2 linked regions of the Homo sapiens genome follow. The protein of the gene in region 2 purifies or fractionates together with the protein of the main gene of each other region. This does not show direct contact. Each region holds a gene or a part of one and is shown on either strand. Other genes may lie near its edges.

Region 1 (3,758 bases), on a different chromosome or scaffold from region 2:
TCCCAAAGTGCTGGAATTACAGGCTTTAGCCACTGCACCCCTCTGACTATGTTTCCCGTTGTGTGTTAATTATGGTCAGTGTGAGGCCCACCCTAGCCTCCCAAAGTACTGGGATTACAGGCGTGAGCCACCACACCCGGTGGATGTAGAATTTTATCAAATGCTTTTCTAGCATCGATTGAAATAATCATATGGTTTTTGTCCTTCATTCTGCTGATACGATTTTATCACATTGATTGGTTTGTATAAGTTGAACCATCCTTGCCTCTCTGGGATAAATCCCACTTGGTCCTGATGAATGATCTTTTTAATGTATTGTTGAATTCAGTTTGCTAGTATTATCCTCCTTATTGAGGATTTTTGCATCAATGTTCATCAGGGATATTGGCCTATTTTTGTTTTTTCGATGTGTCTTTGCCTAGTTTTGGTATCAGGGTAAAACTGGCCTAGTAGAATCAGTTTGGAAGTATTCTCTCCATGTCTGTTCAGAATAGTTTCAGTAGGATTAGTATTCTTTTTTTTTTTTTTTTTTTTTGAGACAGGGTCTCATCTGTCATGCAGGTGTAGTGCAGTGGTGCGATCTCAGCTCACTGCAACCTTTGCCTCCCCGGCTTATGTGATCCTGCCACCTCAGCCTCACTAGCAACTGGGACCACAGGCATATACCACCATGCCCATCTAATTTTTGTATTTTTTGTCAAGACAGGATTTTACCATGTTGACCAGGCTGGTCTTGAAATCCTGAGCTCAAGCGATCTGCCTGCCTTGGCCTCCCAAAGTGCTGGGATTACAGGAGTGAACCACCATGCCCAGCCAAGTATTAATTCTTTAACTGGTATAATTCAGCAGCGAAACCATCTAGTCCCAGGCTTCTCTCTGCTAAGAGACTTTTTATTATGGCCTTAATCTCATTACTCTTTGTCTATTCAGGTTTTAGATTTTTTTCATTGTTCAATCTTTGTTTTTATATTCATGTCTGGTACAGCAGATTCCAGCAGAAAAACCAAAAAGATTTTCTTTTACATTTTGTTCTCTGTTGGCAAAACATGTTTTTCTTCCTTTGAGCAACAGTAAACTTCCATAGTTCCTATAGGGGAGGTGGTGGCAGGTAGGCAAACTTGGCCTCTGAGATATTAGACAGTTTGCCCTGTCATAGTTTGGAACAACATGGCTGAGCCTGGCATACAGGAGTCCTGATTGGTAAAGGGCTGTAGCTGGAGCAGCATGCTGTCATTGTAGCTGTGCAGTGCCATGGACATACTGTCAGTATTTGGAGAGAAATAGCAATTCTGTTATATGTGTGGGGTCACTGTGCCTCGTAAGTCAGTTCCTTCTTACAGTAGGTTTGGTTGGAGTTCCTGTTGAGCTTCAATATGAAACCTTAGAAACCTAAAGTAGTTGGTGGTTCTTTCTCATGGGCTGTCCCCACATACACAGTGTCCAAGTTGTCTTGAACCAATTCTGACTATAATTAACACACAACAGGGAACACAGCCAGCCAGGTGCAGTGGCTCAAGCCTATAATTCTAGCATTTTGGGAGGCTGAGGCAGGAGGATTGCTTGAGCCCCAGAGTTCGAGACCAGCCTGGGCAACATAGCGAGACCTCATCTCTACCAAACAAACAAATGTACAAAATGAGCCAGGTATGGTGACTGACACCTGTAACTCCAGCTACTTGGAGGCTGAGGTGGGAGGATCACTTGAGCCTGGGAAGTCGAGGTTGCAGTGAGCTGTAATCACACCACTGTACTCCAGCCCGAGCAACAGAGCAAGACTCTTACCTCAAAAAAAAAGAAAAAAGAGAAAGAAAAGAAAACCTGAAAGGCTGAGAAAAACACAGAGTTTATTGTAGTGGTATCTGTACAATTACAAAAGGTGAAAAACAACCAAAGTGTCCAGCAGCTGTATGTGGGGCAGTTAGGTAAAACTGTAGTATGTCCATTTCGGTGGAATGTTACACATCCTTACAGTTTAAATGTATGAAAAGGTTTTAATAATATTGGCCACAGGACACAGAGTATGGTGTGTTCACAACTAAGAGCTTTAAAAAAAGGAAAAGAAGCCAAAATATCTGGATGAGAATGGGTCATTTTTTTCTTTATAATTGTTAATATTTTGTAGTTTGTCTTCAATTTATAATCAGGAGGAAACCTTTTCCCTTGGTGGTATACAACTCAAAGAAAAAGTACTGAAGAGTATAAAATACTGATCTAAGGATTAGGTCTGTGACGTTTTATTTTAAAATGTGTAACTCTTACGGTACTAATGTGTTTGCCTCCTTCTGCCACCAGGGGGCAGACCGGGCCGTTCCAGTGCTGATCATTGGCATTCTGGTGTTCCTACCCGGATTTTACCACCTGCGCATCGCTTACTATGCATCCAAAGGCTACCGTGGTTACTCCTATGATGACATTCCAGACTTTGATGACTAGCACCCACCCCATAGCTGAGGAGGAGTCACAGTGGAACTGTCCCAGCTTTAAGATATCTAGCAGAAACTATAGCTGAGGACTAAGGAATTCTGCAGCTTGCAGATGTTTAAGAAAATAATGGCCAGATTTTTTGGGTCCTTCCCAAAGATGTTAAGTGAACCTACAGTTAGCTAATTAGGACAAGCTCTATTTTTCATCCCTGGGCCCTGACAAGTTTTTCCACAGGAATATGTATCATGGAAGAATAGAGGTTATTCTGTAATGGAAAAGTGTTGCCTGCCACCACCCTCTGTAGAGCTGAGCATTTCTTTTAAATAGTCTTCATTGCCAATTTGTTCTTGTAGCAAATGGAACAATGTGGTATGGCTAATTTCTTATTATTAAGTAATTTATTTTAAAAATATCTGAGTATATTATCCTGTACACTTATCCCTACCTTCATGTTCCAGTGGAAGACCTTAGTAAAATCAAAGATCAGTGAGTTCATCTGTAATATTTTTTTTACTTGCTTTCTTACTGACAGCAACCAGGAATTTTTTTATCCTGCAGAGCAAGTTTTCAAAATGTAAATACTTCCTCTGTTTAACAGTCCTTGGACCATTCTGATCCAGTTCACCAGTAGGTTGGACAGCATATAATTTGCATCATTTTGTCCCTTGTAAATCAAGATGTTCTGCAGATTATTCCTTTAACGGCCGGACTTTTGGCTGTTTCCTAATGAAACATGTAGTGGTTATTATTTAGAGTTTATAGCCGTATTGCTAGCACCTTGTAGTATGTCATCATTCTGCTCATGATTCCAAGGATCAGCCTGGATGCCTAGAGGACTAGATCACCTTAGTTTGATTCTATTTTTTAGCTTGCAAAAAGTGACTTATATTCCAAAGAAATTAAAATGTTGAAATCCAAATCCTAGAAATAAAATGAGTTAACTTCAAACATTTCAGAAAACATTTTAATGATTTTATGATATCTTTAATCCCAGTACCTAGATCTACCTTAGTTTCTAGGTAGCTGGCATTGTGGGTCACACTCAACTTTCCCTAACTCTGAGGTTATGGACTTGGGCAACTGGAAGCCTGGACATGCCATCAGCTGAGTTGCAAGGCTGTGGGAAGAGCAAGTTTTAGATGTCTACTCAATATCCAAGTGGAGCTGTTGAGGAGGCAGTTGCGATGCATGTGTGTGTCTAGAGTTTAAGAGTGGGTCTTGGATGGAAATAGAAATTTGGGAGTCAGCATTTGGACAGTATCTTAAAAGCTAGAGGGCTGTTTGAGATCACCAGTAGAGTGAGTATAGTTGGAGGAAAAAAAAAAAACTCAGGA
Region 2 (3,406 bases):
GAGGCAGAGGAGAGAGCCAAAGATAGCAGAGCTAAGTCAGGGAAACACAATTTGCAATTACCTATAATAGCTCAAAACTTGGGCTGAGATTTTAAAAACACAAGATTATCAGCTTAAATCTAGAAAAAATAGTTTTTCTTTCCAAATAATTTGATAACATTTATGTAAAATTAAAATGTTATTATTCCCCAGTGCCCCCACCATCACTACCCACCTCTCATCACTTTTCATCTTCAGGTTCAAAATAATCCCTGGCGCTTGTAATTGAATGATCTCGCAATGGGTGTGTGAGTTTACTTGGATCTCATGGGGCCAAAGTAAGCTGATAATATGTTTCTCTCACAATCATCCACACTATTTGTTTATAAACAGCCTTATTTAATTTAAACTGGACTTGCAAAATTGGACCACTTCTAATCTTTCCTATCCCTTACACATAGGTCCAATTGTTTCATTTTATTCTTGACTCTGATTCTAAGAATGAGTACATTTTCCCCAGCATGTAAAGGAGAGAAAAAAATACCCGTGGACTAATGTAACAAAAATCTCCCCAATGAATTTCCCATAAAGAAGAGATAAAACATCAAGTACCAATAGTGCCAAAACATTTACTGAAAGTTTTCAAATCTTGCAAAAATGTTACAAAAAGTGAGCAAATGTGGTGAAACTAATGACAAATTAGACATTGAAAACCAACATCTGGTTAAGTGTAGGCAGGCATGTAAGGGAAAGACAACGTCCATAGGCAGTTACTATGGTAAAGGACTGCATTTGACTCTTTTACACATATTATTTCATTTGATCCCATTTAGGAAAGATTATCCCAGACTTGAAAATTTTGGTTTTAAAAAATTGTGACCTATAGATATCACATTAGCTCATTATCCATCAAACTCACTCAAGTGTCACCTGACTCTCTTGGGAAATGTAACTTTGTCTGACCAAGAATTTAATAGGGACCAGATTAAGGACTCTGTAGAATTAGAAGTTGATTTGTAGAAAACCATTAAGACATGATGCTTTATTTTTGCTTTCTGGTAGAGAAATGTACCTCCACGGTTATAATTTTATTTCCCTGTAGGACCCTAACCAGTTTTATATCTTTCTGGCAATTTCATTTTATCAAAGCCTTCCTCACTGACTATTTAGATTCCAGTTTTTTCATATTCTCTTCCAATTGCTCTGTTATACTGATGTTGAGTTAACTGGAACTTAACTCATCTGTTTATGAAATAATTATGTTTTTAATAATTTCAGAGTTTGTGCTTTGACAGACAATCATCAACCAACCACATGAGGTAGGTAGTATGTCCTCATTTTACAGAGGAAGAAACTGAGTCTCAGAGAAGGCACATTATCGTCCAAGTTTATAGAGGTAAGAAGTGACAGAACTGAGGTTTTCACACAAATATGCCCGAATCACTTTATGGAAAATACACTGATGATTCATATGTGGACTGAAATTTGAGCTGCAACATCTCCAAAAAAACAACCTTACCTACATATGTTTACTACATGTTTGAATTATAAACATGACAGCTGAGTATCAAAAGCAACTAATTTTAAACAATCTAAACCTGAGTTTTTAAATAGTAATTAAAACAATTATTTATTAATTTGTTTGGCTTCAATTCTGAAGCTTTAAAAATTGGAAATGTTGAAAATATTTGCCCATAGACTATGTGGAATATTATCATTAAAGTGTGAAATTCCAGTGCTTTGCTGATTCTATTAATGGTCTGGATGATGCTCAGCAAATTACTACTGAGGTTGTTAGAAAAGCCATTGAAAAGTATTTAGAATACTTAGTGGCGAGCCTCTCTCACATTTCATAAGCATGTCCTTACATGACACAGACTGAGAGCTTTTTGAATAAATTTGATCAAATTACCAGCCTATCCTGCTGCAAAGATGTTCAGTCTCCTTTGTCCCTAGACTGGTATAAAAATGAGAAACACAAGCACACTTTTGTATTCTTCAGGCTTGGAAGCCATTTGTTGTCCTGGCTGAACAGACAGGTAGATATCAAGACTAAAGAGTGACATGCAACTCAGTCTGAAAGCAACACAGTACACGCTTTAAATTTTAAAAGTATACCTTGGGAAAGGCTGATCTTACAGATACATGTTTATCTGTCAATAGGCATGCTTTTCAGCTTGGATATATACCTTTAAAATGCACCCTTTTATCCGCCTGAGGATCCATTCAGTGAATATGCAGCTTTACAAGTTTTTCTCCATAAATAAGATTCTAAAGTTCAGGTCAATTGGTATCTAGGTTGATTTAAAAAAAAAAAAAATCTGTACTTGTAACAGCGAGTGTTTTGTCCACCAAATCACAAACCAGACAGTGACCCTCTGGCCTGGTTTTCCATAGCGCACACTCCTGTTTGATGGGCACTGGCAGTTGTCTGCCGCAGATTTAAGTTAAGTGAGGCAATCTGCCTGCCCCACCTCTTGCCTCAAATCTCAAACTCTGGAGCCAGCAGAATTTCAGCTCCACCTGAAGTGAAAAGATAACTACGTGGTTTAAATTCATATTGACTCACAGTTTCACTGTTTTATCCTGGCTAAAGCTGCTCACGGTGTCTGTGGTTTTCTTACATAAATTTTCAATCCAGCTAGTGCTATTATAATGTGTCTTTTCCAGCCCTGATGTTGGGGGTGGATTTTTAGCTCGCATATTTTTTCCAGATGTGATAAGCTCTCCATAGCCTTCTTGGTGAGCAAAAGCATATCCAGACCTTCTTGAGCTTGACCTGCGGGTCCGAGGCCTTCGGCTACTTGGAGGCCTTGCCTTCTTTTGAGCCTTCTGCCACCGGCGGATCTGGAGAGAAACAGACCCAAAGTGAGATGATGCATCCAAATGATAGACTCCAGGCAGTGGCCCACTTTGTAAAGTGAAAGCCTTTTTTTTTTATAAGTAAAAACAACATTGCAAAAGGAAGTTTTAAATCTAAAAACTAAGAAATTTTCCACCCAAAAGATAACACTGGGGGGGCACTGGTCCATTTTTATCTCTATCGAGACACTATTAAGTAATTAAGAAATATCAGACAAATTTCATTATTGTCTCTCATGTATCTTCAATGCATATGAGCATACATTTGTATAGAAAGATTTTCTAACATGCACCGCCCAAAGTCAGCATAATAATTTATAATTTCATTCTCCCAAAACAGCCTTTTTCCTCTCTTTTAGAGATTCTCTGGATCCAACAGTTGTCAGTAACTGGACTAGAAGAAAATTCAGAAAATGAGTCAGAAATATTCAATTCTTGTGGTAGCTCAACGTATCATGAGACTTCCAGGGTTTTGATTTCTTAGGTTTGTATGGCCTTTCTAAATGTTCCCTATTATGTGAGTAGGTTTCCCACAACTCTTTCATTCCCCTGTAAAGCTAAGGAG

What was found. The genes of interacting proteins can lie anywhere in the genome.
Region 1: the proteins of ATP8B4 (region 2) and TMEM230 purify together in Homo sapiens (affinity purification with mass spectrometry; one large-scale study listed by BioGRID and IntAct). This does not show direct contact.

What each region holds. Positions count from the first base shown.
Region 1 is NC_000020.11:5,099,466-5,103,223, reverse strand, and holds the end of TMEM230 (transmembrane protein 230), read left to right. Parts: intron 1-2,292; coding exon 2,293-2,433; 3' UTR 2,434-3,374; downstream 3,375-3,758.
Region 2 is NC_000015.10:49,857,650-49,861,055, forward strand, and holds the end of ATP8B4 (probable phospholipid-transporting ATPase IM), read right to left. Parts: intron 2,827-3,406; coding exon 2,545-2,826; 3' UTR 589-2,544; downstream 1-588. UniProt on the Homo sapiens protein: Component of a P4-ATPase flippase complex which catalyzes the hydrolysis of ATP coupled to the transport of aminophospholipids from the outer to the inner leaflet of various membranes and ensures the maintenance of asymmetric distribution of phospholipids.